Linked DNA regions of Homo sapiens: region 2 is linked to region 1. A link means that fine-mapping ties the variant in region 1 to the plasma level of a protein whose gene starts in the linked region. Region 1 holds a variant in brackets. A gene starts in the other region. All regions are shown on their reverse strands. Region 1 holds the start of PLA2G2A (phospholipase A2 group IIA). Region 2 holds the start of LECT2 (leukocyte cell derived chemotaxin 2).

The links. PIP is the chance, under the fine-mapping model, that this variant and not a neighbour inherited with it causes the effect. Protein levels are from antibody-based Olink assays in UK Biobank. Linkage for the fine-mapping came from a reference panel and not from the study's own genotypes, which makes the PIPs less certain.
Region 2: it holds the start of LECT2, and the variant in region 1 is fine-mapped to the plasma level of the LECT2 protein (UK Biobank, PIP 0.90).

What each region holds. Positions count from the first base shown.
Region 1 is chr1:19,977,667-19,981,666 of GRCh38, reverse strand. It overlaps PLA2G2A (phospholipase A2 group IIA), which reads left to right and starts at 2,049. Exons shown (of 5, transcript NM_001395463.1): 1 at 2,049-2,087; 2 at 2,788-2,933; 3 at 3,143-3,287; 4 at 3,546-3,652. The coding sequence starts at 2,894. RefSeq lists an enhancer at 2,906-3,405. The variant C/G (reference allele first, on the strand shown) is at 2,014.
Region 2 is chr5:135,952,788-135,957,319 of GRCh38, reverse strand. It overlaps LECT2 (leukocyte cell derived chemotaxin 2), which reads left to right and starts at 2,337. Exons shown (of 4, transcript NM_002302.3): 1 at 2,337-2,532; 2 at 4,353-4,449. The coding sequence starts at 2,487.

The DNA.
Region 1 (4,000 bases):
TTGGAGTATTTCTTTCAACTGAAGCCTGGACCAGGGCTATCCAGATATACAGAGAGGGAGGCGGTTCTGCCTATTGGAGGAACTACTGTTTCCGAAAGTGCAATGTTTAACAAAGGCAGTGGTCTACCCCGGGGGGTTGAGACCTCTGAACCCTGACGTGGCCATAAAGCCAACTGCTATAGGACTGGCAACCCAGAATAAGAAGAGTGAAGGAAGCCAACAGAGATCCCTGGAGGTTGTGTTAGTTTGCTTCGGCTTTGTATTAGGTACTTTGTGGCTTACACAACAGACATTTTATTGTCTAACAGTTCCAGTGGCAGAAATCAAAGGGCCCAACAGGGTTGATTCCTTCTGAGGGCTGTGAGGGAGAATCTGCTCCATCCCTCTCTCCTAGCTTCCAGTGTTTTCTGGTAATCTTTGCCATTCCTTGGCTTGTAGAAGCTTCACCCTGATCTCTGCCTTCATCTTTGTATGGCCTTCTCCCAGTGTGCCTGCCTGTCTCCAAATTTCCCATTTTTGTAATGACATCTGTCATCTTGGATTAGGGCCCATCCTAGCTGCCCTAGTGATCTCCTCTTAACTAATTATATCTGCAATGACCCTATTTTTAAATAAGATCACATTCTAAGGTACCGGGACTCCAACACAGGAACTGAGAGCAGGAAGGAGGACCACAGTCCAACCCCTTACACAGTCGAGCACTGGAGGTAAATGGTATTCTCGAGAGGAAAGCTGTTTGATGGCTCTTGGGATAGATTAGGTTATGCTCCAGCAACTGCCCATCTCAATTATCATCAGCTTAATACAACAAAAGTCTATTTCTCACTCACACTAAGACCCCTGTGAGCTGCAGGACTTTCTAGGACAACTGTCTTCCGTGCCATGATTCTTACACCCCAGATTGCTTTCATCTTCTGGTTCTACCAGTGGGGCAGGGAAGGGCTGGGGAGTTGCATCTCATAGTCCCCTTGCTGGAGAAACCTGGAAGTGACCCTTCATACCAGTGCTCATGTTTTACCAGTCAGCAGCAGGGCCCTAGGTCTCCATCCCTGCAAGGGGCTCTAGAGTGTAGGGAACAGATGGAATGTTCACAAGCACCACAGCCCCTGCCACAGTGACTTTTTTAGGACTGGTATCGCAGAGTGTTTACTTAAGGCGGTGGAAGCTAAATTCTTAGCATGTGCTGGAGAGCAATGAAAAAGATATTTACTTTATGAATTAAAGCTGGAGTCAGTGTCAGCCCGAAGGCTGAAGGAAAAAGAGCAACAGATCCAGGGAGCATTCACCTGCCCTGTCTCCAAACAGGTGAGGATGGGGAATAAAGTGAAGGCAGTGCTTTGGTGGGAACTTCAAGGATAGCCTCTGGCTTTTTCCAGGTTTAGAAGCTCATATGAGACAGGGGTGGAGGAAAAGAAGAAAGAAGAATAAGAAGAGAAAGTTGAGGCCCTGGCCCAAGTTAGTGGGAAGGGAAATCCACCCCCATTAAACTCTCTCCCTGGTGGACTGTGGGGTGCACACGTGAGGCCTGCACAGGTGCTGGAACATGGTAGAGGCCCAGGACATACTTCCTGTGAATGAATGATTGAGCGGCTGAATGAATGAGTACCACTAAAAGCCCTCTTTTCTATTCCCAAATGCCACATTGAGCAGAAGGGAGCAATCCTTGCTCAGCAATTGGTAGTCCCTTTGGGTGTGCAAATGAGTCCACAGCCTGCAACAGCAGACAGTCTCTGCCCCCCTTAGAGGCGATTGCAGGGAGGTGGCTGACCGTTGATCACACCCAGAGCTGGTTATGGGAATTTACTCCATGGAAAGACTGCAAAACTGCCTGAAATGTGTTTTGGCATCAGCTACTGACACGTAAGGTTTCCCAATCCTCAACTCTGTCCTGCCAGCTGATGAGGGGAAGGAAAGGGATTACCTAGGGGTATGGGCGACCAATCCTGAGTCCACCAACTGACCACGCCCATCCCCAGCCTTGTGCCTCACCTACCCCCAACCTCCCAGAGGGAG[C/G]AGCTATTTAAGGGGAGCAGGAGTGCAGAACAAACAAGACGGCCTGGGGATACAACTCTGGAGTCCTCTGAGAGGTAAAGAGCCAGCGAAGCTGATGTCCTGTCAAGAGCAGAATTCCTGCTCATTCGCTGCCTTTGAGAGTGGCTGTGTTGTGCATGCATGTGCATGATTTGATATGTATGAGAGGGTGTGTGTGCATGAGTGTGTTGAGTGAGTATGTGAGTGTAGTGTAAGAGAGGATGTTGGCACTATCAGGTAAGTACGAGAGTGTGTGTATGTGGGCATAGGTGTGTTAACATGTATGTGTTTGGGAACTTGTGTATGTGGAAGGGGTTAGAAGGCCTAGAAGAGAGAGGTTGATGCTTTCATTCTGGAGGAAAATACTGAGGCCGAGCCTCCATGGGTGCCTTGGAGACTCCAAGCCTTGAATCCAGTGTGGGGATATGCAAGCTATGTCTAGCGAGGGACACATCCTCTGACCTCAGGAACCTCCCAGGTAGTTGGGAGGAACCTGGTTCCAACCTCCCAAGAACTCTCAGTCTGATGAGGTACAGGGGAGGTCTCATTAGTGTATCATGGGGTTCTCCACAGGTCTGAGGGCCTGATGTGTGTGAAACCATTCTGCAGAGCTGGGAACGGGTCAGGAGGTGGTTGTGTGTGTGTGTGTGTGTGTGTGTGTGCATTGCTGGAGGGCACTCCTTGTGTGCTCTGAGTGTGACAGAGGAAGTCACCCTGGACTTAGGTTGGATGGGAGAGCATGTCTGTGTGTCTCAGAGCCACCAAGGAGGAGCAGGGGAGCGACGGCCGGGGCAGAAGTTGAGACCACCCAGCAGAGGAGCTAGGCCAGTCCATCTGCATTTGTCACCCAAGAACTCTTACCATGAAGACCCTCCTACTGTTGGCAGTGATCATGATCTTTGGTAAGAGCTGACCCTGACCTCTGAGCATGGGGGGACAGCCCCAGAAGGGAAGCACTCTTGTCCCTTAGTTTTCTCTCCCATTGCAGTGATCCTCTCTCAGGGGGAAAAAAGAAGCCATTTGGGAGGAAGGAGAGTAGCAGAGAGGGGCAGAGAGGGAGGGCGCAGAACCCCATGCCCCATCACCAGACAACTCCCAAATTTCCTTCCAGGCCTACTGCAGGCCCATGGGAATTTGGTGAATTTCCACAGAATGATCAAGTTGACGACAGGAAAGGAAGCCGCACTCAGTTATGGCTTCTACGGCTGCCACTGTGGCGTGGGTGGCAGAGGATCCCCCAAGGATGCAACGGATCGGTGAGGCCACCTATCCCTCCCTACCCTCCTAGACTCTGGCCCAGGCAGGGCTGGGAGCTGCAAAGACAGTGCCGGTTCCTGATGGGCGCAGAGGTCTCAGGATGGCCTGGCTGGAAAAGCAGCCGGCATGTTGGAACTTCTGCTCTAGACTGTTGCAAAGTCACTGGGTCTCTGCCCAGGGTCCAAGGGGGTGAGACCACAGGCACCAGGCCTCCTGGAGCTGTGGGACAAGAGCCCCAACAGGGTGTCTCCTCACAGCTGCTGTGTCACTCATGACTGTTGCTACAAACGTCTGGAGAAACGTGGATGTGGCACCAAATTTCTGAGCTACAAGTTTAGCAACTCGGGGAGCAGAATCACCTGTGGTAAGAGTCCTACCTCACCATCGAGTGGCCCTCATTTGTTTAGACAGTGCTGGGGACTGTGCTGGGCACCAAAGATAGACACAGAGGGACACAGTTCCTGCTTCAGGAAGCTCACGGTTGAGTGGGAAGCCAGGAAAGTGAAAATCCAATGTAGTAAAGACTCCAGTGGGAAGTAAACAAACAGATAAGGCATTAACACAGCCTGAGGCTTGAGGAAGGCTCCTGGAAGGGGTGACCCCTAAGCTGAGTCTGAAAGGCTGTGCAGAGAGTCAGGGAAGAGGAGGGAGCATTCCCAGAAGAGGACACAGCATGGTCAAAGGCACTAAAGGGCACTGTAAGCCATTCTGT
Region 2 (4,532 bases), not on the chromosome of region 1:
CATGATCGTAGCTCACTGTAACTTCAAACTCCTGGATTCAAATATTCCTTCTGCCTCAGCCTCCCAAGTAGCTAGGACTGCGTACACACACACCATGCCTGACTAAGTTTTAAAAATGTTTTGTAGGAATGGGGTTTTGCTATGTTGCCTAGGCTCGTCTCGATCTCCTGGCCTCAAGTGATCCTCCCGCACAGGCCTCACAAAGTGCTAGGATTACATGCATGAGCCACCACGCCTAGACTGCACTTTTATTTCTTGCCAGTTGTTGTCTCAATACAGTTAATAGAATGACTTATATTTCCTCTAATCATTTAAAGTATGACTTCTATTGTATACTACATGCTGTATATATTTGTGCCTATTTCTGAATCATCTGTTTTGTTTCACTAACCTATTCTTTCAGTACATTGACTCAGATCCTTGATGTATTCAATGCGTTGGCATTCTATATTGTATACATTAGATGCCTCCTTGAAAGGTTGTGTGTGAAGCAAAAACAATTAGGTGCATAATCTCATTGGCATCGTTTAGTTATTGTTGTGTGACATACCACACCAAAACTCAGTGGCTTCCAATGACAGCCAGTTAAGCCCATACATTCATAGGGTATACTAAGCTGGATTTTGTAGGGGCAACTGTGCTCTGCATGGCATCCATTCCCTTCCCAGGGCAGCAGGATCATCTGCCTCACGGCGATGTAGAAACACAGGAAGGAGTGTGCAAAGACTAAGGCCCCAGAAGACCCAGGCTTTCCCGACCCACTGCCACTTCTGCCTCATCTTAGTGGTCAAAGCTACACAGCTAAACCCAAAATCAAGGGTGAGGAAAGTTCCCTTTGCCCCCATGAAACATGGCAAAGGTGTGGATGCAGAGAGGGTGAAGAACTGGGGCTACAATCCCAATCTCCCACAGCTACTGGCACATAATTTAAATGGGGAAGCTTCCATAGAAAATTCCAGGTGCTCATCTAATATTAAGCTAAAAAGGAGCTGCTAACATATATTTGAAACACACTGAAAATTTAATTCCCCAGAAAAGTACAGGGTAACATAACATCCATGTGTCTATCTCCAATAATTAACAAATTAATATTTTAACATATTTGCTTCTGATTTTTTTCTTTTTTTAGAAATAAAATATTTTAGAGTTTATGTACTCTGTATATCCTTCCACGGTTTTATTTCTCTCACTATCCAGAAGTAATTAGTACCTTAAAGGTAGTCTGTGCATATTTTTATTATACATACAGCATTCATTAAGATTAATATACTTGTTTTCAGATTTTACATATTATAAATAGTATGATACTATATATATAATTCTAAAAATAGCTTTTTAATTCAACAGTATATCTAGAGATCTAGCTGTGTTAATACATGTAGATTGTCTTCATTTAAATTGTTATATTTTACTCTGTTGTATGACTGTATTATTCTGTTCTTGCATTGCTATAAAGAAATACCTGAGATTGGGTAATTTATAAAGAAAAGAGGTACAGAAAGCATGGTAGCTTCTTGGGACGTCTCAGGAAACTGAAAATCATGGCGGAAGGCAAAGGGCAAGCAGGCATGTCTTACACGGCTGAAGCAGGAGGAAGTGAGAACAGGGGAGGTGCTACACACTTTTAAACAACCGGATCTCACCATAACTCACTCACTCACTATCAGGACAACAGCACTAAGGGGATGATGCCAACCCATTCATGAGCACTCTAGCCCCATAATTCAATCACCTCTCACCAGGCCCCACCTCCAACACTGGGGATTACAATTGAACATGAGATTTGGGTGGGGACACAGATCCAAACCATATCAATGACTATATTATAATTAATCTTTTTTCCTTTATTGATGGATGCTTTTAATGGTGTTAACTTACCATTATCATAAACAAGAAAACATTTAAAAATCACATATTTAAGGTGAATACATGCAATTTTATTAAAATATTAAAGTTATTTGCAAATATTACACAGGTGAAATATAATTAAACTGAGAATTCAAAAACACCTAAGGGATATATTAAGGAATATGTTATGAAGGGCTACACATTATTAATGACCAATTTTCTTCTGAAATATGTGCTATCAAGGAAATAAAAGAAAGATCTACCAGCAGGCAGCACTAAATATTCCATCATTCGCACGAACATTCTCCTACAAGCCACAGCCCAGAAGACTGTCGATATGCACCTAGCCTTATCATTTTCTGTTAATATTTAGTCAGTATTTCCAATATAATTGGCTTCTTCTTCAGATCAAAGGCTTTTACATAGGCCCTACCTGCAAATCAAATAGCTATCCATGGAATATTAGAACTTGACTTGCTCCATCCTCTTAAACTTTTTGTGTCTCACACTAAAGAAATGAGAGATGCAGAATTCTAAGGCTAAATAGCTAGGAAGTATTCATTCAAACTTGAATATTCTTCAAAGAGAGTGTGGGGGCAACTCTAATCAGAGGAAGAAACTAAAGGAAGTAAAACCAGATGTTTTCCACCAAAGCCCTCCTTTTGGCTGGTCTGATTTCTACCGGTAAGTCGAAAGTGCAATTTTAGAATATTGATTAACTTTTAAAAACTGATTTCAGGGGAAGACTAAAAAGATTAAAAAGTCATTAATAGCATGATCACAACAAAGACTTGTGTATTTGGCTATTAAAAATGAAATAGGAATGACACATGGTCCTGAGGATGTTTTAAGTAATTTAAATGGAATGTTCCGGTTCTTTAATGAGGGAAACATAATAGTGGGTTGAGAAGACATTACAAAGCCTTTCAGTCTGAGTCTGGGTCTGGGACTTAACTAGAACAAAACTAGATAATAAAAAGTTGATATAAATATTTGATTCTGATTTTGATCAAAATCAAATTCTGATACAGATACTAATACAGAGACTGGTATGGATTAAGACAAAGGGATGGCTCCCTTAATACTCACCGAAGGAGGAAAAAGTGAATAAATTACTACACTGTCTGATATTTGCCTCAATTCCCAAGGATAAATATTAGTTGCCAAAGTGATGGGATTATATCTTGATCAAGGTGTTGATTTGGAGCTTGGCTCCAAGGCATAAAACTTTTGAAACCCACCTTTTAAAAGTATTTTAAAGAAGAGGCTTAATGGCCATATTCTGTAGGTTCTCTTCACAGGATAGGTATTAATGAAGAGTAAAATGTCTTTAAATAAAATCAATAGTCAAATTACCAGGCTCTCGCTTTTGCTTGTTTGTTTCAAAGTGCAAGGTTGAGTGTGCTCACTGTATCTCTCTGTGAATGTTAACACTGGAAATCCAGGACATTTAATTCCATTGAACATTTATTAAGTGCTTACTATAGTAAAGAAACAAATTGTGCCTGAAACAAAGTTTGCACCAAGTCTGCTGAGAAAGCAGCCCCTCCTCCACGTTTCATAATTTTTCATATAATTGGTTCTACTCCTTCTCCTACCTTCACCCCTAATCTCAGTCTAGGCTAAATTGGTTTGACATTTCAGATTATTTTTAAGAATCTCCCTCTTCCATGTTGGCAACTATGAGAGATTTATCTAGTGTTAAACAAACTTGGCTAGTACAGAGTTCGTTTCTCCTTTAATTCAAACATTTGCTTGGATTTGATTAGTGGAACTAACCATTTCAAAATTACAATTTCTAAAATTATTTTCTGAGCCATGCTATTTTATTATTTTTGCTTAATCTAAAAATAATGATCCCCATGGCAGATAATGAGCAAAGAAAAATAGAAAAGCACAACTTATACCATTTACTAATGGATCTGAAGCAAAGTATAATGATGGAGGCCAATGCTTATAAAGAAACACATTCAGCTGGGCGCAGTGGCTCACGCCTGTAATCCCTGCACTTTGGGAGGCTGAGGCAGGCAGATCACGAGGTCAAGAGATCAAGACCGTCCTGACCAACATGGTGAAACTCCGTCTCTACTAAAAATACAAAAATTAGCTGGGTGTGGTGGTGCGCACCTGTAGTCCCAGCTACTCAGGCGGCTGGGGAAGGAGAATCACTTGAACCCAGGAGATGGAGGTTGAAGTCAGCTGAGATCACGCCACTGTGCTCCAGCTTGGCAACAGAGTGAGACTCCGATCCAAAAAAAAAAAAAATTGTATTCACTGATACTCTAACGTCACAAAGCAGAATTCTGTGGCCAGGGAAAAAGCCAATTTTACATCTGAATCAGGAAATAAAATTCTGGAAGGACGATCTTCCCATAAATACATAAAGTCCAGGGAAAACTACAGTGAAAACAGAATTGTCAGGATCAACTGTGTGACTGATAAGGCAAATGGGGATAGGAAATGTCTGAGGCCAGGAGCTCTGCTCTCACTTTTCTCCTTTTTAGCACTGGCAGGGCCATGGGCTAATATATGTGCTGGCAAGTCTTCCAATGAGATCCGGACGTGTGACCGCCATGGCTGTGGACAGTACTCTGCTCAAAGGTATGAAGTTGCACAACCACCCACCCAACCCTTTGGTCCCTAACCTCTTTTCTTAGTGTCCTTGCCCAACGTTGGTTGCCTCA